7 linked regions of the Homo sapiens genome follow. The protein of the gene in region 1 purifies or fractionates together with the protein of each later gene. This does not show direct contact. Each region holds a gene or a part of one and is shown in the gene's direction. Other genes may lie near its edges.

Region 1 (4,009 bases):
CTCTGACCAAACTCCCTTTATCAATCCTAGAAAAATTACTGAAATCTGGAGGAATCTTTAAGATTTAACTGGTATTAAATTTATGCATTTGAGGTTTGGAAATTTTTTTTTTTTGGAAGGAGATGGAGGGTGGTGAAGGAGAGACAGGTAGGAGGGAACCAGGAGAATGCAGGTCTCCACTAGTTTTAAACACTTCAAGAAGAGAATAAAAAATTCCCCTCCTCTTCACCCCGCTGTAAACATCACCTGGCTGTGCTCATTGTGGCTCTCTAGAGAGATATAGGGAGTTATTTAAGTCTGAGTGAGTGAGCCAGCTACAGCTATGGATGGCTAGAGAGAGGATAAATACATCTAGAGAGATGAGAGGTAGGGAACGAATATAAATATGGAGAAAGATGGACGAACAGAGAGATGGATTGAGACAGAGAGAATATAAAGAGAGGCTGAGGGAGAGAAATGGATGTGTGAATGAGGAGAGAACATTTATGCAAAGAGAGAGAGAGGGAAGATGGGGCATTTCTCATCCTTTTCTCCACATTTCTGTAGTCCTGCCTTGCTCCCTGAAATGCCAATTTCCCACCCCTGGCTTCATGAATTCTTCCTCTAGATTCTAGATCCTGCCCCACACCCTTAGGTGTTTTTGCACCACCTTCCCCCACCTCCCCACCACACAGTCATCCATTTGGCCCAAGATAACATACCTCACCCGGCTGTCCTAGCCCACCACCCTAAGACAAATTGGAAGAAAGGAACATGGTTTGGGAGTTCTGGGCAAAGTATGGAAGCTGGATTCCCCACCTCCAGGTCCACAGACTTAGGGGGAAGGTTTCTCTGAGGGGTGGGAAGAGTGAGGGGCAGCTGGCTTGAATTTGTCCAAATCTAATAACCCAGGAGCCTATTGAAGGCCTTGGGGGTTGGGAGGGAAGGAAAGTCTTGAATATTCTCCTAACTTTTTCCCCCTCTCCCTCTGGTCCCTTCTTTCCAAAAGTCTTTGAAGAAAGATGTTTTTGACGCTTCCATGTCGCTCTCAGATGGATGGGCTGCGGGTGATTGAAGTGTCTTTGTCATGCTAATGCTTGGGGGGTGATGGATGGGCGCTGGGGCTGCCAAACTCTGGCCCGCTTAGCCCATTGGCCTGGGAGAGATCACATGTGCCCCCTCACCCCCACTCCCTACCCCCTTCCTAGGGAAGCGCTTGCCCAGGCGAGCGGGTCAGGCCATGGATTCGAGCCCCAGCGCTGTGACATACTGCCGAAAGGTTGTAGGGCAAGAGGGTGTCTCCCCCAAACGGGCCGACCCTCCTGCGGCCTTGACGCATGGACTATAATAGGATGAACTCCTTCTTAGAGTACCCACTCTGTAACCGGGGACCCAGCGCCTACAGCGCCCACAGCGCCCCAACCTCCTTTCCCCCAAGCTCGGCTCAGGCGGTTGACAGCTATGCAAGCGAGGGCCGCTACGGTGGGGGGCTGTCCAGCCCTGCGTTTCAGCAGAACTCCGGCTATCCCGCCCAGCAGCCGCCTTCGACCCTGGGGGTGCCCTTCCCCAGCTCCGCGCCCTCGGGGTATGCTCCTGCCGCCTGCAGCCCCAGCTACGGGCCTTCTCAGTACTACCCTCTGGGTCAATCAGAAGGAGACGGAGGCTATTTTCATCCCTCGAGCTACGGGGCCCAGCTAGGGGGCTTGTCCGATGGCTACGGAGCAGGTGGAGCCGGTCCGGGGCCATATCCTCCGCAGCATCCCCCTTATGGGAACGAGCAGACCGCGAGCTTTGCACCGGCCTATGCTGATCTCCTCTCCGAGGACAAGGAAACACCCTGCCCTTCAGAACCTAACACCCCCACGGCCCGGACCTTCGACTGGATGAAGGTTAAGAGAAACCCACCCAAGACAGGTAGGGCTCAGATGTGGCCACCCCTTCTCCGGGGCCCAAAGCATCTCTGCTTCCCCTGCAGTGACATGTCCTGGGTCTGGGCTGGGTTCTTCTCTTTCAGCGGCTCTGGTAGACACAGGTAAGAGCACAACCTACGTCTCAGGTCAGGTGAGGTCTCCCCACCCAGTATGTAACCGGTCACCCCAGGAGTAAGTTTCCATACACACCCCACTTCCTGATCTGTGCACCCAGCACAGACCCAGGACCTGGTGTGCATGGGGGATGGAAGTATGGGGAAGGCTGCTCCAGACTTGGTGATCACCATGGGGGTACCTGGTGGTCCCTGGGAACTTTGACAACTGTACTTGGGCAGAATGGCAAATGGAGGTCCAGAGCCAGCCCCGGGAGGAGGGAAGCGGAAGGAGAAAGAGGTGAGAGAATTGACCTGGCCTTTCTCCCTGCCCCGCCCCTAGCGAAGGTGTCAGAGCCAGGCCTGGGCTCGCCCAGTGGCCTCCGCACCAACTTCACCACAAGGCAGCTGACAGAACTGGAAAAGGAGTTCCATTTCAACAAGTACCTGAGCCGGGCCCGGAGGGTGGAGATTGCCGCCACCCTGGAGCTCAATGAAACACAGGTCAAGATTTGGTTCCAGAACCGACGAATGAAGCAGAAGAAGCGCGAGCGAGAGGAAGGTCGGGTCCCCCCAGCCCCACCAGGCTGCCCCAAGGAGGCAGCTGGAGATGCCTCAGACCAGTCGACATGCACCTCCCCGGAAGCCTCACCCAGCTCTGTCACCTCCTGAACTGAACCTAGCCACCAATGGGGCTTCCAGGCACTGGAGCGCCCCAGTCCAGCCCTATCCCAGGCTCTCCCCAACCCCAGGCCTGGGCTTCACTGGCCTGGGGATCCTCTCTAGGGCTGAAATGCCAGTTTAGAGCTGCCTGGGGGTGGGAGGGGGGATGGGGAAACATTTTTCTCAGACCTGGGTGGCTGGGGGCCCTACAGGACCAGAGGCCTGGGAGGCATGGAACCTGTCAAATGTAGAGGGAAGGGCTTCTGCCTTTGATCTGGGGATCAGCTCAGTGTCAACATGTGGTGGGGGTGGGGGCCAGCCTCATCCTCCTGGATTCATCCTCCTTTCCCTTCCAACTTGGGTTTATTCGGTTCAGTGCCTTCGAGCTTTGAGGAGTCTCCTCACGCACTCTTATCCTAACTCCCCCTTCTAGGCCTGACACAGAACCTTAAATTTTCTTGTGTGGGAGGTGTTTGGGTGCAGCCATATTATTATCAATGCTTAATCCAGTCACCACAGACCTTACAATAGCACCAGCTGCCTTGTGACAGACCAAAAAGCCCCCCGCCCCCATCTAACCCCATTAGCCCTCTCCTGGCATATTTATATTGCACTAATGCAGCCTTCAGAGGTTGTTTTCTGAGACCTGCCTCCTCACACCAGCGACCTCATCACTATGTCACCAAAGTGTTTTGGAACTTGGTATTCCAGAGACTTCTGGAACGCCGTGCAAGGCCTGCCCCCAGCAAGCCACAACCAGGAAGGTGCAGGCACGCCCCCACTAGCTCCTCCCCTATTTATTGCCTCCTGGAAAACCCAGGACCCTCTTCCCCATCTCCACCCCTACCCCTGGGGGCAGCCCAGGGAGAGCCAGGCACAATGAGGGCTCCCAACAGCTGCAAGGATTTATCTGAACCTTTGAGAAAGAGGAGGAGCCATCTAAGTTTCTGGAAACCTGAGCCCCAAGTGAGCCCGGGTTCTCTCTGTACCTGCAACTACCTCATTTCAATAAAGTCTGTGTTTTCCCTTCTTCCTGCCTGCTTCTGTTTCTCCATTCAGGGGTAGAAGAGGCCTCATACTCCGTGCACCGTGGAGAAGAGGTGAAGAAAGAGTGGCCATTGGCTGGTTGGGCTGGAATGAACTGAGCTTTAAGATCTCAGCTGGATAAAGAGAAGGACTTACTGGGTGTGGCCTAAGCAGGATTGGGTCCCAGGCATTCAGGCTTGACAGTTGTCAGTCCCTTGGTTATTGGGAGAATCCAGAAAAGCATGGAAGAAGTCTGTGGAATGAATGCAATTCCCAGAGATTTTTCTTTTTCTTTTCTTTTTTTCTTTCTTTCTTGCT
Region 2 (3,500 bases), on another chromosome or scaffold:
AAACTCCTGGGCTCAAATGATCCTCCTGCCTCATCCTCTTGAGTAGCTAGGACTACAGGTGCATGGCACCACACCTGGCTTATTTATTTATTTATGTATTTATTATTTTTATTTTTTGAGATGGAATCTCGCTCTGTTGCCCAGGCTGGAGTGCAGTGGCGCGATCTCAGCTCACGGCAAGCTCCGCCTCCCAGGTTCACACCATTCTCCTGCCTCAGCCTTCCGAGTAGCTGGGATTACAGGCACGGGCCACCACGTCTGGCTAATTTTTTGTATTTTTAATAGAGACAGGGTTTCACTGTGTTAGCCAGGATGGTCTCGATCTCCTGACCTCGTGATCCTCCTGCCTCGGCCTCCCAAAGTGCTGGGATTACAGGCGTGAGCCACTGCGCCTGGGGTTTTTTTTTTTTTTTTTTTTTTAATTTTTAGTAGAGATGGGGTCTTGCTATGTTTCCCAAGCTGGTCTCAAACGCCTGAGCGCAAGTGATCCTCCTGCCTGGGCCTCCCAAAATGTAGGTATTACAAGAGTGAGCTGCTGTACCTGGCCCCCATCCATTTACTTTCAACCAATTTGTGTCTGTCTCTGGGAGACTCTACTTCACTGGGTCTTGCCATTTTATCTGGATTGACAATCTCTGCCTTTTAATTGGTGTACTAGTCCATTATATCTAATTATTGATATCATTGGGTTTAAGTCTACATGTTTCCTTGTATTCCTTTGGTTTTTTTGTTGTTCTTTTGCTCCTTTCCTGCCTTATTTTGAAATAATTGGATTTTTTAAAGTATTGGCCTATTAGCCGGTAGCTTTTTATTTTTTATTTATTTTTATTTTTTTTTAAATAAGAGACAGGATCTCACTCTATCACCCAGGCTGGAGTGTGGTGGCTTTATCACAGGTCACTGCAACCTTGAACTCAGGGGTTCAAGGGATCCTTCCACTTCAGCCACCCCAGAATTTGGGACTACAGGTGTGCACTGCCACAGCCAGCTAATTTTTAATTTTTTTTTGTAGAGCTAGTCTCTGACTGTGTTGCCCAGGCTGGTCTCAAACTCCTGGCCTCAAGTGATCTACCCACCTCAGCCTCCCAAAGTTCTGGGATTACAGTCACCTTTTATGGCCAACAATTAACTCCTCATTGTTATTATTATTATTAGTGGTTTCTTTCAGCATATCTTTTATTTGTATTTGTGATTTGTTGTTATTTTTGCTTTAAACAGTCAGTTGTCTTTAAGGAAAGGTATGTTTTTAAAAAACTACTTCACTGAATATAATTCACGTACCATAAAATTCACACATTTAAAGTGTACGTTTCAATGGCTTTTAGTATATTCTCAGAGATGTACATATTACCCCACAAAGATACCTCTCACCACTTAGCCGTCACACTCCTCAACTCCCCCCTCCCATAGCACTAGGCAACCAGTTATCTACTTTCTGACTATGTAGATTTTCCTATTCTGGACCTTTCATATAAATGGAATCATACAGTATGTGGTTCTCTGGACTGGCTTCTTTTACATAGTGTAATATTTTCTAGGTTCATCCATGTTGTAGCATGTATGAGTACAACATTTCTTTTTATTGCTGAATATTATTCCATTGTATGGCTATACTACATTTTATCCATTCATCAGTTGAAGAACATTTGAGTCATTTCTACTTTTTGGCTGTTATGAATAATGCTGCTGTGAACATTCATGTACAAGTTTTCGTATGGACAAATGTTTTTGTTTCTCTCATGTATATATTTAGGAGTAGAATTATTGGATCATATGGTAACTCTTTGTTTAGTTTGTTTTCCAATGTGGCTGTACCATCTTATAGCAGTGAATGAGGGCTCTAGTCTCTCTATGTAGTTGCCAATGCTTGTTATAGTTGTCTTTTGATTATAGCCATTCTAGTGGGTATGAAGTGGTGAAATATAGTCTCTTATTTTCACCTATTTACTATCTTTGATATTGCCCTTCTTCCTTTGGATCTGATTTTATAGTCATATTGATTTCCATCTGCCTAAAGAACATTCTTTAGCATTTCTTTTTTTTTTTGAGACGGAGTCTTGCTCTGTCGCCCAGGCTGGAGTACAATGGCACAATCTCGGCTCACTGCAGCCTCCGCCTCCCAGGTTCAAGCGATTCTCCTGCCTCAGCCTCTTGAGTAACTGGGATTACAGGTGTGTGCCACCATGCCCGGCTAATTTTTGTATTTTCAGTAGAGATGGAGTTTCACCATGTTGGCCAGGCTGGCCTTGAACTCCTGACCTCAGGTGATTCGCCTGCCTCAGCCTCTCAAAGTGCTGAGATTACAGGCGTGAGCCACTGCGCCCAGCTCCTTAGCATTTCTTATAGTGTAGGTGTGTTGGTGAAGAATATACTCTGATTTTGTTTATAAGAAAGTGTTTTTATTTCACCCTAGTGTTTGAAGGATATTTTTGCTGAATATAGAATTATGGGTTGGCATTTCTTTGACCATACAAAAGATATCATTTCATTGTTCTCTAGTGTTTCTGTTGAGAAGTTAATTTTACTCATATCTCTTTCTCCCTGTTCTTTAGATTATATATTTTCTATTGATCTATCTTCAGGTTCACTGTTGCCTGTCTGCCATTTCTAATCTCATCCAATAGATTTTTCATTTCTTATTGTATTGTTTTGGTCGTAGAGTTTTCATTTTTATCTTTTTTATAGTTTTCATTTCTCTGATATTTCCCATCTATATACTCATCAAGAATATATTTTTCTTTAGTTCTTTGAATGCATTTTCCTTTAATTTTTTGAACATATTTTCCATTAATTCCTTTAAAATATTTATGATAGTCAATCTTAAGGTTTCTGTCTGTAAGAGTTAACTCCTTGGCTATCTCAGGGTTGGTTTCTTTTTTGTTTGTGTTTTTGAGAGAGCCTCACTCTGTTGCCCATGCTGGAGTGCAGTGGCATGATCTTGGCTCACTGCAACCTCCACCTCTTAGGTTCAAGTGATTCTCCTGCATCAGCCTCCCAAGTAGCTGGGATTACAGGTGCCTGCTACCATGCCTGGCTAATTTTTGTATTTTTAGTAGAGATGGGGTTTTGCCCTGTTGGCCAGGCTGGTCCCAAGCTCTTGACCTCAAGTGATCTGCGTGCCTCGGCCTCCCAAAGTGCGGGGATTACAGGTGTGAGCCATCACGCCCAGCCATCTCAGGGTTGGTTTCTATTGACTGCTTTTATTTGACTGTAGGTTACAGTTTTCTGCTTATTTATTTTTGCATGTTTACTACTTTTTAATTGTAGGTGGTATATTATAGAGATTCTGGATTTTGTATTTTTGTGAAAAGTGTTGATTTTAAAAATTCTTGCAGGTAGTTCAGTTACTGGCAGATAACTTTGAACTTGTGTAGGCTTGGTTTTACTCTTTGCTAGAATGATATGTGGAGAACCCATTGTTTCCTTACTTTAGTGTAACTCAACCTCACATTTTTAATCCCTTCAAAAACTTGTTGGGGCTTGATTTTAGTCTTTGTTAG
Region 3 (3,500 bases), on another chromosome or scaffold:
TCTGATTTTTTTAAAAAAATGTACAGAACTTAGCTTAGGGCCCATCCATCCATTCATTTTCTGTCCATCCATCTAGTCAACAAATATTTACAAAGTACCTACCGTGTCCAGGCCTTGCATACCTTGGTGAGGACAAACATGGTCCCTGCCCACCTGGAGCTTCCAGTCTAGGGGGGAAGACAGATGTTGATCAAATAATGGTACAGGCCAGGTGCGGTGGCTCACTCCTGTAATCCCAGCACTTTGGGAGGCTGAAGCGGGCGAACTGCTTGAGGTCAGAAGTTTGAGACCAGCCTTGCCAACATGGTGAAACTCTGTCTCTACTAAAAATACAAAAATTAGCCGGGCGTGGTGGCAGGCACCTGTGATCCCAGCTACTCAGGAGGCTGAGGCAGGAGAATCACTTGAACCTGGGAGGTGGAGATTGCAGTGAGCTGGTATCATGCCACTGCACTCCAGCCTGGGAGAAAGAGTAAGACTCCTCCCAAAAAAAGAAAAAATAAAAATAAAAATAAATGGTACAAATAAATGTGAGATAAAGCCATGTCACATGACAATGGAAGAGAACATTCTAGCCTTCTTGTCTCTGTAACCACCGTTCTCATGGGTTAGAAATGAAGCCTTCACACGGTCAGTCTCAAGACAGCAAATAGACAAACTTCCTTTTCCTTGTTGAGAAATTGCAGTTCCTTCCAGTTGTTGAGGAATTGCTTGTTGAGAACATGCAGGTGTGTTAAGTGCTCAGTAAACATCAGCCGCCTGAGACCAGGATCAGGGATTATGCCACCCCGCTGCTGCCCACTGCTCCTGGAGTGGCCACAGAATCATGTCCCCACGTACCTCTCCGATGTCTCCTCCTTCCTTCTATTCAAACACCTCACTCTCCTTCCTCCTGGGGGCCACGTGGGCCTGTCTCCATACTTAAGCCTTTGTACATGCTGCTTGCCAGTTTAACTTCCCACTTTCCTCCAGATCTTGGTGTCAATGTCATTTCCTCCAGGAAGGCCTCCAGGGTGTCTAGCTCGATAACCCCTGTTAACCATGCCCATGGTAGCATGCTCCATTTACCAGGTATGCCTTGTCCTTCTTTAGATGTTCCTTGAGGCCAACCTGGTTTCCCATTGTCCTCAGAGAAAAGGTGAGATGTGGTTTTCAGCCCTACTCTACAGCAGCCCACCCCACTGCCCGGAGGAGGGTTTTCTTCACATCTGCTATACGTTCTCTGCAGCAGACATGATGGGGGGCCCACAGCTCTGGGGCATCCCTGCCTGGACTCCTCTATGGGCCTTTCAGAGGACCCTGGGATCTCAGGAGAAACTTTCTGGGACCCAGAATCCATGTTCACTTGAATTTTCTGTGTGACTTCATGGAAAGAGTCCAGCTTAGTGTCAGACAGACCTGATTTCAGAGTTTAGCTTAGCCACTTACCAGCCGGGCAAGTTTTGGTGTCTTTCCAAGCCTTGATTTGCTCTTCTGTAAAATGGGCCCAATAATACATCATTAGGGGCATGAAATGAAATTATATGAAGGGGCCAGGATGGAGCAGCACATAGTAGGGGCTAGAGATGGGAAACAAGCTTGTGCCTACTATGTGCCAGGCCCCTGCTGCCTCTTGCTCCCCACAAATCCGCTGGAGCCCCCTTTTACACATTGGTAGGGTTCCTAGACCAGGTGGTACCTGGCCATCCCCCACAACCAGGGCCAGGCCTGGAGGTGGAGGTGTCCTGGGGACCATCCCCTCACTGCATTTTTCCACAGGTCCAGAACATCCACGGAGCTTTCAATGCTCTCGGGGGAGCAGACAGACTCACCTCCAACCGTATGTATCCCTGCTGGGAACAGCCTTCTGCTCCAAGATGCCCAGTACAGCAGGCAGGGAGGGGGAGGGCAGAGAGGTGGGGGTGCCTGTCCAGCACCCACTCCAAGGCAGGGAGGCTGCTGCTCACACTCCATTCCCACAGCTAACCAGTGGGAAGGTGGACCCAGCCCCGTCCAGACCCAGACCCTGATGGAGAAGGAAGAAGGCTTGTCCCGGGGCACAGCAGACGCACGCACGCAGTGGATACCAGCTATTACCATTATTGTTGCTCTCATCACAGCCACATCATCATCCTTAGTTGAACTAATTACCTAAGATCCCACAGGGAGCTATGGCAGAACCAGGATCTGTTCTGCCTCCAGGTCGCACCGTGAGAACAGGTCTGTGGGTGGCCCAGTCAGCTGTGACCACATGGCTGCCTCCCCCACACCTCACTCTCCTCCTGCTCAGACTCCTCCCATCGATAGTGGCTCCTCCTAGAGTCCTCGCCCTCCTTAGCTCCCTGGCACCTTGGCCCAGATCAAAGAGAACCGCACATCTCCACACGCAGACAGGAGAGCACGCATACCTTTCGTGCACACCAACACACATGAGCTCACATGGCCCCAGACACGTGCACAGAATGGGCCCGGGAGGCCTGTGTGCTCAAGCAGACCTGCAGACCCACTGCTGCACAGGGTACCTGGATTTTTCTTATTTCCTCACCTGAGCTCACCTTTTAACCCACATCTTTTCTTATTATTTCCTGAAATGCGTTTGCTCTCCCATTGTCAGGGATCCAAGGCAAAGAAAACATCCCTCTGTGACCTGCCCCCCCGACAAATCGAACCTCATTTTTCTGTGTCCCTGTGAGTCCTTGTCCATAAGCAGAACTCACTTTTCTTTTTTTCCAAGGCATGGATTGCAGTTTACCGTCTGCTTTTTGTACTTGACCTTATTACATAGCCACGATTTTCTTACTTTCCAGTTGTAATGGGAGCACAGTTGTCCATCTTGCAGCTCTGCTGTGCTTTTTTTTTTTTTTTTTTGAGACGGAGTCTTACTGTGTCACCCAGGCTGGAGTGCAGTGGCACAGTCTCGGCTCACTGCAACCTCAGCCTCCCGGGTTCAAGCAATTCTCCTGTCTCAGTCTCCCGAGCAGCTGGGATTACAGGTGCCTGCCACAATGCCCAGCTAATTTTCTGTATTTTTAGTTGAGACAGGGTTTCACCACGTTGGCCAGGCTGGTCTTGAACTCCTGACCTCAGGTGATCTGTCCCCACTCTGCTCTGCTTTTCTAAGTCATTGTCTTCTCACCGAAAGTGTCTGTCGTTTCCTGTGTTTCACTGTGGCAATAATGCCTCTGATATGTACAGGGTTGGCGCTCTGTTACCCGATTGCTTTCCAGCTGTGTCTGGTTCCCATTCATGCTGCCTCCAGCAACGGATAAGTATACGGCAGCACCTCCTTATTTGAGTGCAAATGTCTGGTTGTAATAGAGGTAGATGATTCTTGGTGTGGTGCCGTGGTCATTGTCGTTTTGTGTCATGGTAACATGTCATCCGACGTCGGCCGTCCACAAATGTCTGCAGCTACGATGGACCCTCAGCTGCTGGACAGGAAAGAGGATCAAGCTAAGAAGGCCCAGAGTGTGCAAGCAGAGAGAGGGTGTGGACAGAAAACCTTGCCTTCTCCAGGGCTA
Region 4 (3,500 bases), about 12 Mb from region 1:
ATAGTCTATATTACTGCTATTTTTAATTAGTCTTTTGCAAGCCTCATTTTAAAGGAGACTGAGTTTGAGTTGTTTTCTCTGTATGCGTTTAGTGTGCCAGGACAGCCGTATTTGGAGGAGCCCTACCAAAATGTCTGTTTCCAAGCTTTTCTGACTATTTTACAGTCTCCAAAATCATCTGATATGGATGATATCACATTTTGCATGGTAAGTGGACTATCATTGACGTAGTGAATGTTGCGGATGTGTCTAGAAGCAGATTGGAAAAGTGTTACTAACGAGTTTAATTTGCACCATTAGCTTCGTCTAGAGAAATACACATATATGAAATGTTTGTAACCTAAAAAGACTAAAATCATACCATTTCGGTTTAAATTATAAGAAGCTTTTTATTTGTTATATTTTGCAATTCTAGATTTTTAGAGGAAACTATTCTTTTTCCTTCTGAGTATAAAAGCAATAGTTGCAGGCTAGTGACTATCTTTAAGATGAAAGTAAAGAGAGATTTCACCAAATATATCTGCAATATTTTATTTCTTTTTTAAAAATACGATGCAAACGACAGTTTATTAACATCTTTTAAATTTAGAGTAACACATTTCAAATGTTATATAGCTGAGATAAAGTTCCTTCTAGTCTCCTGCTCGGATATAGCCACTGAAGACAATTTGTGCTGTGTGCCCTCAGATTTTTTTTTCTATATGTAAATGAGCATAATTACAGCTTTAAGTGGGATCATATTTAACATGCTGTTTTGTAACTTTCTTGTTTTGTTAAAACTTAATATCTCTGGGACATCTATTCGGTTCCTGTTAATATACCTCATAGTTTCTAACTGCTATGGCTGGAAGACCTTGGACAAGTTAGTTAACTTCTTGGAGCCTCTGTGTTCCTCCCTGAAAAGGGACTGATATAACCACATTGTGGGGTTCTTATGAGAAGTATATGAAATAAAGCATTCAAAGGGCCTACTGTTATTGTTGTTGAGTTTTACATTTAGCAGAGGGTTAGCTTCTTTTATAATCATTATCATAATCATCAAAATTGAAGTTTTTAAAATTTTCCCACTATTTCAAACAAGGCTACAGTTCACATCATCCCAATGTCGGAAGTGTTTCTTAAGGAGAGAGTTCTAGAAATGAGATTACTGAGTCAAGAAATCAATCTTGGTCAGAATTGCCCTCCAGAAACCAAGTTTCTATAATTTATCAGCAGTTCCCACATACATCCCCTTGCTTTTAAGAGGGCTGGGTTTGCCATATTACAGAGCTTTCCCAATTCTGATCTGTGCTATCTTTTTTATCCCTTGTCACATTTTTCTTGCTAAACATCTTCTCTCTTTTTTCTTGCTCACCATTTGTACATAGTGGTTTATAAACATGTACAATAAGACCACTTCATTATTCTTTTCTTCTAGAAAAGAATTCATGGTAGTTTATTAGGTCTCCTTAGATCTTCATTTCTGCTTTGTGTGTGTATATGTGTGTCTATAATAAAGTTTTTTTTCATCATCTAGAGACTGTCTCTCTTCCATCCTAAGTGGTGCTAGTAAGTTGATTCCTGGACAACCAGATTTTATTCTGCCTTCTAACTGGGTCTCCCTTTTCCCCCTAGTTATTGCAAAATGCATTAAAAGGTATACAGTCACTTCTAAATGGTGGGAGAATGAAACTAACACAGACTGATGAACTTGGAGCACTTTTAGCTGTGCTAAAGGTAAGGCAAGTCTTCATATGATCATTGTCTTTCCTGTTTCAACCCATGGTACAAGGACCACTTTACATCCTTATTCTAAGGCTAACTTTGAGGTATTAAAAGTTCTTACATATATTTTGAGAGAGTAGACAAAAATGTTCATATTCAAAGACACTTAATATTAAGAACAGAAAATAAATCTCCATTTAATAAATGCATCAAAATTTTAAAATTATTTATGAATCTTAGGAAGGGAATCGGTAGGGGAGTATGACCTATAGAATATTTAATTATAGACTATGTTGTACTTGTTTGTACAAGAAGAGCCAGTGCTTCTCCTTGGCTTTCTCCTCCAAGTAGTAGACAGGCCAACCAAGACGTGTGTCAATGGGCAGCTTCCGAGCGTGCCAGTCAGTCGGAAAGTCAGGCCAGCATCTCTGGGGACCCAGCTTCTTCAGCCAGCAAAGTAAGAAGTAATTCTTTCCTTGTGGCATTCTCTTGCTCCCACATCAAATAGAGAGATAGCTATAGGTGGAGATAGGTAAATAAAAATGATAAATTTGTTTAAAAAATTATAGACAGATAAAGTAATTGGATAAATTTTATAAATAAATAAGGAAACTAAAACCAGACCTGATTTGATCTGACCAAACCAAATCCAGCTGGAGGCCAGATAAACTTCAGCTCTTCTTTAAGCCCTATGCCTTCAAGGTATCTATTTTCTATCTCATTTATATTTCCTTAGTAGGCTTTTGAACATTATCTATGAGTGTTGTGATCCAGACATGGTAAATAGTTCTATTTTATGATTAATGGTTTATGATTAATGGTTTTTTTGGTTTCGTGTGTGTGTGTGTGTCCTTATTCATCATTATTAGAAATTCATGTTTCACGGACTCCCTGGACTAAACATAGAGATGCCCACGGTGTTATACCCAACTCCGCTTCCTCAGTATGATGGGCGAACACCTATCAAACCACAGCAATCAGAATCCAGTGCTTCTCGACCAACTTTGGTACATTTATGTTTATTTAGATTTAAGTTGTGGCTTATTTTTAATAGATTGTTGTGTGTGTTTTCTATGATTTGCATCACTACTACCCTAAAAGCCTACCTTGAATTTTATTTCAGTTTAGGGTTGTTAGCATAGTAAATTTAAACTCATCTGATGCTCAAAATACCAATTAAAGCATCTTATACTTCTTAGAGGTGTAGTCAGTATAACAGCTATAAAAATGAGCATTCACTTTATACCCCAAACCAAGCATTCTCATCCCCATGATGCTCAAGACCAGGAGTCAACAAACGTTCTCTAAACTTTCTCTACTAGGCTAGTAAATACTTCAGGTCTCTGTCATAACTACCAACTCTATTGTAACAGTGCAAAAGCAGCCATAGACACTATGTAAATGAATGGGCATGACTGTGTTTCACTAAAATTTTATTTACAGAAGCAGGCTGTGTGCTGGGCTGGATTTGGCTTTTGGGCCATAATTTGCCAACCCCACTCTAGACTGTTAGAAGCCCACCTACCAGTCAGCGCACCATCTCCACACCTTACATTCACCTGATTTCCCAGCCTTTCCAGAAGCTGCCATCTCCCTCGTGCTTTGGTTGGAGAACCTGGAGCATACAGATGTATGGCCAAGGATTCACTTCCAGAAATGTCATACCTGATCAAAGTGCTTCTTATTAGAAATTATTTCACTCATTCACTCACTCAGCATTTACCCAACATCTGCTGTGTTCCAGACGCTGTGCTAAGCACTAAGTATATAGACTCTGGCTGCTTTTAGGAGTTTGA
Region 5 (3,500 bases), on another chromosome or scaffold:
GATGAAGAGTTCTAAAAGCAGGTAAGAAGAACAGTAAAGAAAAATACATTTCCTTTTCTAAGAGTGTAGATCTAAAGTCTCTTATCTGTAATTCAGAAATTGAAATTGTAGAATGACCAAAATTTAAGACTATCAAGTTTTCATAACTCATTTGCCAGTAAAACCTGACCTGAACTGGAGAGAGGCTACTTTATAATCTTTTTAAAATATCACTTAGCGTGATTGGTCATATTAATATGTTTAACTATGAATTGCTGCCCTTTACCTTGCTAGGTGTCACTATGTGGTATATGCCCCATATACTTAAGACCAGATAATTCAAAGTTCCAAATTATACATGGTCCCCAGGATTTCAGATGAGAGACCACAGATCCACATTGGGCTTGTTTTTACCCGTCTGTGGCCTAACGTTATGAAAGCAAGGGGGAAATTCCTTCTCTAATCTCTGCAAGTATACATGGGATGCTACTACCAGTGTCCATTCTGTTTGTCTTTTAAAGCCTAGACAGGACAGGGACATAAGTATCAGCCTCTAGACTAAGCTTGTCCAACCTGCAGCCCAACACAAATTTGTAAACTTTCTTAAAACATTATGAGATTTTTTTGCGATTTTTTTTTTTTTTTTTTTTTTTTTTTTAGCTCATCAGCTATGGTTAGTGTTAGTGTATTTTATATGTGGCCCAGGACAATTCTTCTTCTTCCCATGTGGCTCGGGGAAGCCAAAAGATAGGATATACCTGCTCTAGACAGATGGTTCTCAATGTGTGGTCCCCACCCTAACAGCAGCAGCAGCAACAGCAGCATCCCCTGGGAACTTGTTAGAAATGCACATTCTTGAGCCCCATCCCAGATCTATTGAATCAGAACCTCTGGGCCTGGGGCCTGGCCAGCTTTGTTTTATAAAACCTTCAGGGCATTGGGATACACTCTCAAGTTTGAAAACCACTGCTCTAGATCGGGGTCTGCCAACTACAGCCACAGGCCAAAGCCAGTCAGTCACCTGCTTTTGTATGCCCCAGGAGCCATGAGTGGGTTTTGCATTTTTTTTCTTTTTTCTTTTTCTCTTTTTTTTTCTTTGAAATGGAGTTTCGCTCTCGTTGCCCAGTCTGGAGTGCGATGGCACAATCTCGGCTCACTGCAACCTCCGCCTCCTGGGTTCAAGCTATTCTCCTGCCTCAGCCTCCCGAGTAGCTGGGATTATAGGCATAAGCCACCACGCCCGGCTAATTTTTTGTATTTTTAGTAGAAACAGGGTTTCTCCATGTTGGTCAGGCTGGTCTCTAACTCCCAACCTCAGGTGATTCACCCTCCTCGGCCTTCCAAAGTGCTGGGATTACAGGCGTGAGCCACTGCACCTGGTCTTTTTTCTTTTCTTTTTTTTTTTTTTTGAGACGGAGTCTCACTCTGTTGCCAGGCTGGAGTGCAGTGGTGCGATCTCGGCTCACTGCAACCTCCGCCTCCCGGGTTCAAGCGATTCTCCTGCCTCAGCCTCCCGAGTAGCTGGGACTACAAGCATGCCCCACCACACCTGCCCAGCTAATTTTTAACGGGGTTTCACCATGTTGGCCAGGATGGTCTCGATCTCTTGACCTCGTGATCTGCCCACCTAGGCCTCCCAAAGTGCTGGGATTACAGGCGTGAGCCACCACGCCTGACCTACATTTTTTAAACGGCTGAAAAAAAAAAGAATTTCGTGACACATGAAAATTATATAAAATTTAAACTTCAGTGTCCATAAAGTTTTATTGGAACATGGCCACATCCATTCATTTATGTATTGTCTTTGGCTGCTTTTATGCAGCATCAGTGGAATTGAGTAGTTGCAGCAGACACCAAATGGCCCAGAAAGCTGAAAATATTTACCATCTGGTTCTTTGCAGAAAAAATTTGCTGCTCTAGGTTGATAGTCAACAAACACGAGGAGTAATCACAGAATAATCAGAGACTGAGACCTTCCTTTATCTGAAAATGTCAGCGTCTCCCTAGAAAAAGAAATCTACAGAACTCTTATATTTCTATGTACAGGTGCTGTTATGATCATCACATCATTACATAGCTCTGCATAGTTTTACGTCAAAATAACCTTTGTATTATTTTGGAGGAGTAAGAGTCAAGGAGTTGCTGGACACTTCACATTTTGTCATTATAAAAAATATTTCATAGTCCAAAATTTTTTAGTTCTTTGGGGGAGAGAAACTCATTAAAATTTTTTTTTCTGATTTTCTTCTGAGCTTTAACATTTCTGTATTCCAGGACACATTACCTTTCATGCAAGATTGAACTGTGTCCTGGTTAGAGTGTTGCGTTTTATTTTGTGCAAGATTGGAACCATCTAGATTACTCCTTAAATGGTTGTTATAATGTCCCAGGTAGCCCATGGTTAACTTTGTATATCTACCTATTCAGTCATCTCTCTGTGTTTACTTAATTTATGGGAAAGACATGAAGGAAGAGGTATTTGATGAACTGTTCGTGTTTTTCATGATCTTTTCTGGAAGCTGAAAATTTTCTCACTGGACAGCATTAAATTTTACTCTTAAAAACTTCAGCAACTTAAGAGCGTTCATTCAGCTGTCTGTAGTATTTATATATGCAGTTTTGATGATATTTTTCTTGATCATTTAACGGTGAATATCTGTGGGCAATAAGTCTTGTACAGTGCATTGACATTTAATCATAAATATGTATTAACTATTTTATTTTTGTATGTGTGTGTCTTAATAAATTATGTTTCTTAGGCAACTTGTTCCAGCGATGGCATGTTCCTCTAGAACTCCAGATGACAAGACAAATGGCTAGCTCTGGTGCATCAGGGGGCAAAATCGATAATTCTGTGTTAGTCCTTATTGTGGGCTTATCAACAGTAGGAGCTGGTGCCTATGTAAGTAGAAAAGCAGCGTGTATAAAGAAGCTGCCAAACAGCTCCCATTAATAGACTCGATAGTATTCTGCTTTAAAACTTTTGCAACTAATTCCCCTTTCTCCTTTTGGAAAAATTTTCAAAAAGCCTTCTCTTAAGTGCCTGCTGCCTAATATCTTATGGGAGCCAATTCTGGAATGACTGAAATTTAATCTCATGTTGATTGATTTCTGCTCTTTTCACTTGTCTTTTTCTTCTTTACTTGAAAGCCACTATGTTTTCCTAGATTCGAGTAACCCACAAAATTGTACCTGTTTTCTTGGATGTCACACACTAACCTGTGAATAAAGTCAAAATCCATTGCAGCTCCTTAGCACAATATTTGATTTTGACCTATTTGTCAGACATTTTATTTCCTCAGCTTGAGGTTCACATTAAAAAAACAACAGCCTTCAATCAAAAATATTAAGTGTTCCTAAAAGGAAAGCTATCCCTGAATCTTACCCAAAGACTAAATTACAGAAACAGGGCTAGTATCACTGATTTTAGAATGGAGTTTGTTTGAGGTGAGAAATATGGTGTTTAATTGCTATGTAGTATTAGCACCATTATATCTCCTTAAATGAACTCCGATCAGCTT
Region 6 (3,500 bases), on another chromosome or scaffold:
AAATGTGATTTCCTTCAGTATTTTTGTTTTGGCATAACAACTGTCTGGAAAAAAATTTGTATTTGTACCAGGCAGGGCATTGGCAGATACTGGTACCATTTGATTTGTAAATCAACAAACTGGATTGTATGACCAAAGTGTTTTTATTTATTTTTTTGTTTCTGTTTACTTTTTAAGAGACAGGGTCTTGCTCTGTTGCCCAGGCTGGAGTGCAGTGGTTCAATCATGGTTCACTGGAGCCTCAACCTCCCAGACTCAAGTGATCCTCCACCTCAGCCTCCTGAGTAGCTGGGACTACAGGCACAACCCACTACGCCCAACTAATTTTTATTTTTTATTTTTTATTTTTTTGAGACAGAGTCTCGCTCTGTTGCCCAGGCTGGAGTGCAGTGGCTCGATCTCGGCTCACTGTAAGCTCCACCTCCCGGCTTCACACCATTCTCCTGCCTCAGCCTCCCGGGTAGCTGGGACTACAGGCACCTGCCACCACGCCTGGCTAATGTTTTGTATTTTTAGTAGAGATGGGGTTTCACTGTGTTAGCCAGGATGGTCTCAATCTCCTGACCTCATGATCCACCGGCCTTGGCCTCCCAAAGTGCTGGGATTATAGGTGTGAGCCACTGTGCCCAGGTATTTTTGTTTTTTTATAGAGATGAGGACTCCCTGTGTTGCCCAGGTTGGTTTCTAACTCCTAGGCTCAAGCAGTCCTCCCGCCTCAGCCTCCCAAAGTGCTGGGATTACAGGAGTGAGATATTACACCTGGTTTCAAAGTGTTTTTAATACAAGAATGAGGATTGCACACTGATAGCAAGGGTGTGGGGGGAACAAAGAATGAGGCTACTTAAGTGGGACTAATTACTAACCATCGGACTACATTGACAAAGACTAATTTTTTTCTTAATGTTCTCAATTTGGGATGAGATAGACAAAGTATGAGCAATCTGACAGTTTACCTATCCTAATTATTCTGAAATCATATTTATCCAAAGTTAAGATTTCCATTAAATTATTGTTGATGTACTTAATATTACAGGAAGGAAATGTAACATTTGCCTTTCTCAAAATTCACTTAAATCTTTTTTGTATGATTTTATATAACCACAGTATCATTCGACTATAAATTTATATTAATCAATTTATAGGCCGGGTGTGGTGGCTCACACCTGTAATCCCAGCACTTTGGGAAGCCAAGGCTGGCGGATAACCTGAGGTCAGGAGTTTGAAACCAGCCTGACTAACATGGTGAAACCCCATCTCTACTAAAAATACAAACATTTGCCAGGTGTGGTGGTGCACCCCTGTAATCCCAGCTACTCAGGATACTGAAACAGTGGAATCTCTTGAACCTGGGAGGCAGAGGTTGCAGTGAGCTGAGATCGCACCACTGCACTCCAGGCTGGGTAAGAGTGAGACTGCATCTCAAAAAAAGAAAAAAAAAATTTATATGCATGAATTTTTTTTGTTGGTCTTACTGCTCATTTGTTATATACATGAATTTTAATGGCATTATTGTGTTCACCTATTGATAAAATACGATTTGCATAGATATTCCTCTGTTGAGCATCAAGGTGGTTTCTGATCACTAATTGCTCTAATCTTTCTATAATATTTAAGAAGTATTGATTCAATGAGGGAAATAACAGGTTTTGAGGTACGGAGAGGAGACCTAGAATAGGAAAGAATATGAGCAACAGAGGCCGGGCGCGGTAGCTCACGCCTGTAATCCCAGCACTTTGGGAGGCCAAGGCAGGCGGATCACGAGGTCAAGAGATCAAGACCAGCCTGGCTAACATGGTGAAACCCTGTCTCTACTAAAAATACAAAAAAAATTAGCTGGGCGTGGTGGCGGGTGCCTGTAATCCCAGCTACTCGGGAGGCTGAGGCAAGAGAATGGCGTGAACCTGGGAGGCAGAGCTTGTAGTGAGTTGAGATCGCACCACTGCACTCCAGCCTGGGCGACAGAGCGAGACTCCATCTCAAAAATAAATAAATAATAAAATAAATATCTATCTATATATATATATATGTGAGCAACAGTGTTTTACACCTTTGTTTATTTAGGGACAATAAAATGTTTTTATCAGCGGCTCGGTTTCCTCATTTATTTTTTGCTCCCCAGGCCTTTACAAAAACTTCTAGTGTCATAGAATTTGAATTGTCTCAACTGTTGGGTATGGGATGCGATTTTGAATGATGGCCACTTTGTGTCTATAAAGGTGCTGTTGTCAAGACCAATGCCAATGCAGAGAAGACAGATGAAGAAGAGAAAGGTAACACAGCCGTGGAGCTTTATATAATAACAAGCTTCTACATTCTAAGAAAGTGGATTGTTATGAGGCTTCATTTTTATACCCAGTTTGGCTTGACTTTAATAGGCGATACAGTGCTAGCATAAAGGTTCAATATAGGGGCCGGGCACGGTGGCTTACACCTGTAATCCCAGCACTTTGGGAGGCCGAGGTGGGCAGATCACGAGGTCAGGAGATCGAGACCATCCTGGCTAACACGGTGAAAACCCGTCTCCACTAAAAATACAAAAAAAAAAAAAAAAATTAGCCGGGCATGGTGGCAGACGCCTGTAGTCCCAGCTACTTGGGATGCTGAGGCAGAAGAATGGCATGAACCCGGGAAGCAGAGCTTGCCATGAGCCGAGATCGAGCCACTGCACTCTAGCCTGGGCGAAAGAGCGAGACTCTGTCTCAAAAAAAAAAAAAAAAAAAAGTTCAATATAAATAGTCAGTAGGTGAAGGAGTTCTAATGGTTTACGTTTAGAGAAATTTTACATTTAACAACTGAACAGTTGAATAGGGCATTATAAAAAATTTTCAGTTGCATCTCTATTGTCCAGTAAAATTAAGCTTAATGTTATTTTGACACATTTGACATGGATGACGAGACCAACTTGTCCAATATTAAGGTACAGACTTTGTTAATTCCTGTTTTTTTTTTTATTGTTGTGATTGCTACATTAATTACTTTAGGTTTATATATAGTACAAATTGGGGAGTAAATATGTGGGTCTGGATAGGAGGAATAGATAACTGCAGGAAAAGAGGGCTGTTAGAATAGAGTCTGGAAAAGAATATGAGGCCTAAATGGGTGATGTATCATAACTTTTTTCTTTAATAAAACTATTTTAATTTATAAGTCAAAACTATGACGTACCTTGAATTTGAATGTTCAGTACATTATTATTTAAAATACAAATGGCAGTTGAATTAGAGTAAACGCCTGGTAGGTTTCAAGGACTTTTTAAAATTCTTTGCTTTCTTTTTCCTGACAGAGGACAGAGCTGCCCAGTCCTTACTCAACAAGCTGATCAGAAGCAACCTTGTTGATAACACAAACCAAGTGGAAGTCCTGCAGCGGGATCCAAACTCCCCTCTGTACTCGGTGAAGTCTTTTGAAGAGCTTCGGCTGTGAGTATTTATTCACCTTCTGACTCTTCCCCTTTGCACTGAAATAGAGATCCTAGGTCTGTTATAGATATCTTTTGACCA
Region 7 (3,360 bases), on another chromosome or scaffold:
TTTAAAATACAAGGTAGTAGTTTGTGTAAATACTAAATCCATTGGTACCTGTGCAGAATGTAGGAAATGGAGTTGCTAATTCCAAAAAAACAGCACATATGCTGAGGAAAGTATAATACCTAATATATATGGTTTAAGCAATGTAAAATTCCATGAATATGTTCCTTTTCATCTTAAAATTTGTGATTTAAAAAACATTGATATTACTATAAAGAATTATTGTTATTTCCCTTGATTTACAGAGTATTGTTACAATCACATTTGAAGTACCAGGAAATGCAAAGGAAGAACATCTTAATATGTTTATTCAGGTGAATGCAATTTTTAACTGATTAATGATTTATCAATGGTTTTGTTACATAGTTGTTGCTATTAGCGATGGTTGGTCTTATTAAAATATGTCACTTGATACAGAATCTCCTGTGGGAAAAGAATGTGAGAAACAAGGACAATCACTGCATGGAGGTCATAAGGCTGAAGGTACAGTTTACTGTTGCAGACTTTCGGACAAAGTCCTTTTCTTGGCTGTTATAAAAACTATATTTGGTTTTAAACAGAAACACTTGTTTTAGTACAAATCATCTTTGTCTACTTTCATTTTTCTTTATTATTTTCGTGACTGAAAAGGAGCTTTGGAAATCACTGCATAAGGCTTGATTTATTTGCACAACTTTCTTTAGGGTTGCAGCTAGAACAAACCTGTGTGCTTTGAAATGTTACCTTCTGCTCTCTGTTCCCAAGTACAGAGAAATAATGTTGCAAATCTCACTTCTGCTGAACATTATGCTTCCTGATGCATTTAGCAGACACTAAACATTTGTCATACTCTAAACAAAGTTACAAAGGACTAGAAGAATTCTTGTTCTGTATTTAGAAACCCACTCACGTTACTTGATATTTGGGTATTTAAGTCATGAAAGGTATTTCTTCTAGGAAGCAGTGATTCTAAAGTGTATGCTTAACCAGTCAGTTGAGTGTCTACTCTTGTGTGTTCACAAGTGTGCACAAAGTTTTTGGTAAATTAAGAATATTATTTCAAATAAATTAATTTCATCCCCATAGGAGCCAGTTTATCAGATAATTCGTTTCTCATTTCTGCAAATCAATACACAATGAGCTCATATTCAGATAAATATAATAGTTTTTCTTTATTTCATCATTGTTCATTGATTGCAACCCATTTCTAAAACAAATTATTTAATATAACCAAACTCCTTTAACTTCTCAACTTTTCCCACGAAAACTGTGAAACATTATATAAAATCTTTAATCAATAGGATATGATACATATTTCATCATTTTGTTTCAGGTTTTGGTTGTGATAAATAACACTGAAAAACCATCCTAATATATGTATTAACTTTATCATTAGAAAAGGGGATTGTTCAAAAAGAAAATCAATACACAGAAACCTTTTTTGAAAATTAAAAACATTAAGAAACTTCTTGTAATTCACAAATAATTGGAATTAAGTAATTTTCTCAGCTTAAGAGTTTGTATTTTTTAAGTGAATATCAGTAATTAATCCATTAACATTGATGCTCTATTTCTGCTTTTAAGTTTGAACTGAGGCTGATTAATGTTCAGTCAATTCTCCTTTGAGCAGGGATTGGTGTCAATCAAAGACAAATCACAACAAGTGATTGTCCAGGGTGTCCATGAGCTCTATGATCTGGAGGAGACTCCAGTGAGCTGGAAGGATGACACTGAGAGAACAAATCGATTGGTCCTCCTTGGTAAGTCTCAAAGGATTCACAGTTTTAAAACAAAGTGAAAAATATATTTGAAAGGGATATCATGTGCCACTTAAACAGATTAACCATTCAGGTCCTCTTTTAAAACTAAATAAGCTTGTGGTCAATGTTTCATCTTTATCACGTTACAACGTTCGTAAAAGCTTGTTAGGACTTTTGTTCTTCTTCAGTTTTAGAAAAGTGGTTAATCCAAGGACCAATGTGACTTTGATGTACTGACCTGGAAAGTTAAAGATGGAATCACTCAATTACTATTCTTTTTGTAAATTTCTAAACACCATAAAGCATTTAATGAACTGGAATTGATAGGTGAACTGTGTCATTTTAATAAGCATAATGTAATCACGTCATATTTTGTTTTGTTTGCAGGCAGAAATTTAGATAAGGATATCCTTAAACAGCTGTTTATAGCTACTGTGACAGAAACAGAAAAGCAGTGGACAACACGTTTCCAAGAAGATCAAGTTTGTACATAACACTAGAGGCATTTCTTATCAAAAGGATTGGATAATAAAAATAAGTTTCTACTGGGTATATTTCAAGCATTTATTTATTACTTTAGTTACGAATTCCAATATACTTTAAAATGGTATTTGTTTTACAGCATACATAAAATGTAGCAAATCAGTACTGTAAAACATTTAACATTCATACAGTTATATATAATATCCTTTTTTTTAAAGAATGGTATTTCACAAAAATATCTTTTGAAATTGGCTTTGGAGTTTACATATACTGAACATGAAAGTTTATAATAATGATGATACAACTTTCAACATTGTCATTTTTTCTTAGAACTTCAGCTGATTGCAGAGATATAATGATTACATTGTTATTAAATTTTTTTAACACAAGTAAGTGTCACCATTTTATGACATGAAATAAAAGGTTATGACTGTTATTGATGTTGATGTTGACGACCTGATCACCTGGCTGAAGGAGTGTTTGTCAGGTTTCTCCATTGTAAAGTTACTCTTTTCCCCCATTTCATACTGTGCTCTTTGGAAGGAAATCACTATGCACAGCCCACACTAAAGGAATGGGGAGTTGTAGTGTACTTTCTTGGGAGTGGTCTACATGATTAATTGAAATTCTTCTGCAAAGGACAGTTGTCCCTTTCGCTTTATTAGTTCGATCATTTATGTTTATCAGTGTGGACACATGAATATTTTATACTTTGGGTTACAATTTAATACTGCTTTATTTTGTTGCTCAAATTATCCCAGCTTTGACCATTGGGAACTCTTTCCGTTATCTCCTGTTCCCACCTTTGACATACCCCCATCAATGTGGGTTTTGTGTTTTGTTTTTGAGTGCCTCCTTACTTTTCTCCTGTATTTTTAAATAACCCCAATCCCTATTGAAGCTGGCGCTAGGAAAACTAACAATACTCCCTTTCCCAGGTCATCCGATTCCTATGCTGATGGAGGAAATTTGCCTCACATGCTGGGGGCGCTGGGATTTTGTGGTTGAATAAGACACCTGGCCTGGCCCTCCTGGAGCTTAGTTTAGTAGGTCACACAAGCAGTCATTGGTAAATTTGGGATTCAAACAAATCTGTTAGGCTCAAACCTGTCTGTTATTTGTCCTCCAAGCTTCATATAAA

The links.
Region 2: the proteins of HOXB1 (region 1) and MNAT1 purify together in Homo sapiens (affinity purification with mass spectrometry; one large-scale study listed by BioGRID and IntAct). This does not show direct contact.
Region 3: the proteins of HOXB1 (region 1) and ERGIC1 purify together in Homo sapiens (affinity purification with mass spectrometry; one large-scale study listed by BioGRID and IntAct). This does not show direct contact.
Region 4: the proteins of HOXB1 (region 1) and HEATR6 purify together in Homo sapiens (affinity purification with mass spectrometry; one large-scale study listed by BioGRID and IntAct). This does not show direct contact.
Region 5: the proteins of HOXB1 (region 1) and AIFM1 purify together in Homo sapiens (affinity purification with mass spectrometry; one large-scale study listed by BioGRID and IntAct). This does not show direct contact.
Region 6: the proteins of HOXB1 (region 1) and DDX19B purify together in Homo sapiens (affinity purification with mass spectrometry; one large-scale study listed by BioGRID and IntAct). This does not show direct contact.
Region 7: the proteins of HOXB1 (region 1) and ZNG1A purify together in Homo sapiens (affinity purification with mass spectrometry; one large-scale study listed by BioGRID and IntAct). This does not show direct contact.

What each region holds. Positions count from the first base shown.
Region 1 is NC_000017.11:48,528,212-48,532,220, reverse strand, and holds HOXB1 (homeobox protein Hox-B1), read left to right. Parts: upstream 1-1,209; 5' UTR 1,210-1,316; coding exon 1,317-1,893; intron 1,894-2,345; coding exon 2,346-2,674; 3' UTR 2,675-3,695; downstream 3,696-4,009. UniProt on the Homo sapiens protein: Sequence-specific transcription factor which is part of a developmental regulatory system that provides cells with specific positional identities on the anterior-posterior axis. Acts on the anterior body structures.
Region 2 is NC_000014.9:60,741,261-60,744,760, forward strand, and holds part of MNAT1 (CDK-activating kinase assembly factor MAT1), read left to right. Parts: intron 1-3,500.
Region 3 is NC_000005.10:172,924,751-172,928,250, forward strand, and holds part of ERGIC1 (endoplasmic reticulum-Golgi intermediate compartment protein 1), read left to right. Parts: intron 1-1,758; coding exon 1,759-1,819; intron 1,820-3,500. UniProt on the Homo sapiens protein: Possible role in transport between endoplasmic reticulum and Golgi.
Region 4 is NC_000017.11:60,068,922-60,072,421, reverse strand, and holds part of HEATR6 (HEAT repeat-containing protein 6), read left to right. Parts: intron 1-92; coding exon 93-207; intron 208-1,614; coding exon 1,615-1,716; intron 1,717-2,573; coding exon 2,574-2,711; intron 2,712-3,500. UniProt on the Homo sapiens protein: Amplification-dependent oncogene.
Region 5 is NC_000023.11:130,155,842-130,159,341, reverse strand, and holds part of AIFM1 (apoptosis-inducing factor 1, mitochondrial isoform AIF precursor), read left to right. Parts: intron 1-2,738; coding exon 2,739-2,881; intron 2,882-3,500. UniProt on the Homo sapiens protein: Functions both as NADH oxidoreductase and as regulator of apoptosis.
Region 6 is NC_000016.10:70,312,686-70,316,185, forward strand, and holds part of DDX19B (ATP-dependent RNA helicase DDX19B), read left to right. Parts: intron 1-2,216; coding exon 2,217-2,270; intron 2,271-2,954; exon of another isoform or gene 2,955-3,283; coding exon 3,284-3,419; exon of another isoform or gene 3,420-3,457; intron 3,458-3,500. UniProt on the Homo sapiens protein: ATP-dependent RNA helicase involved in mRNA export from the nucleus.
Region 7 is NC_000009.12:120,337-123,696, reverse strand, and holds the end of ZNG1A (zinc-regulated GTPase metalloprotein activator 1A), read left to right. Parts: intron 1-242; coding exon 243-311; intron 312-414; coding exon 415-480; intron 481-1,606; coding exon 1,607-1,736; intron 1,737-2,123; coding exon 2,124-2,230; 3' UTR 2,231-2,860; downstream 2,861-3,360. UniProt on the Homo sapiens protein: Zinc chaperone that directly transfers zinc cofactor to target metalloproteins, thereby activating them.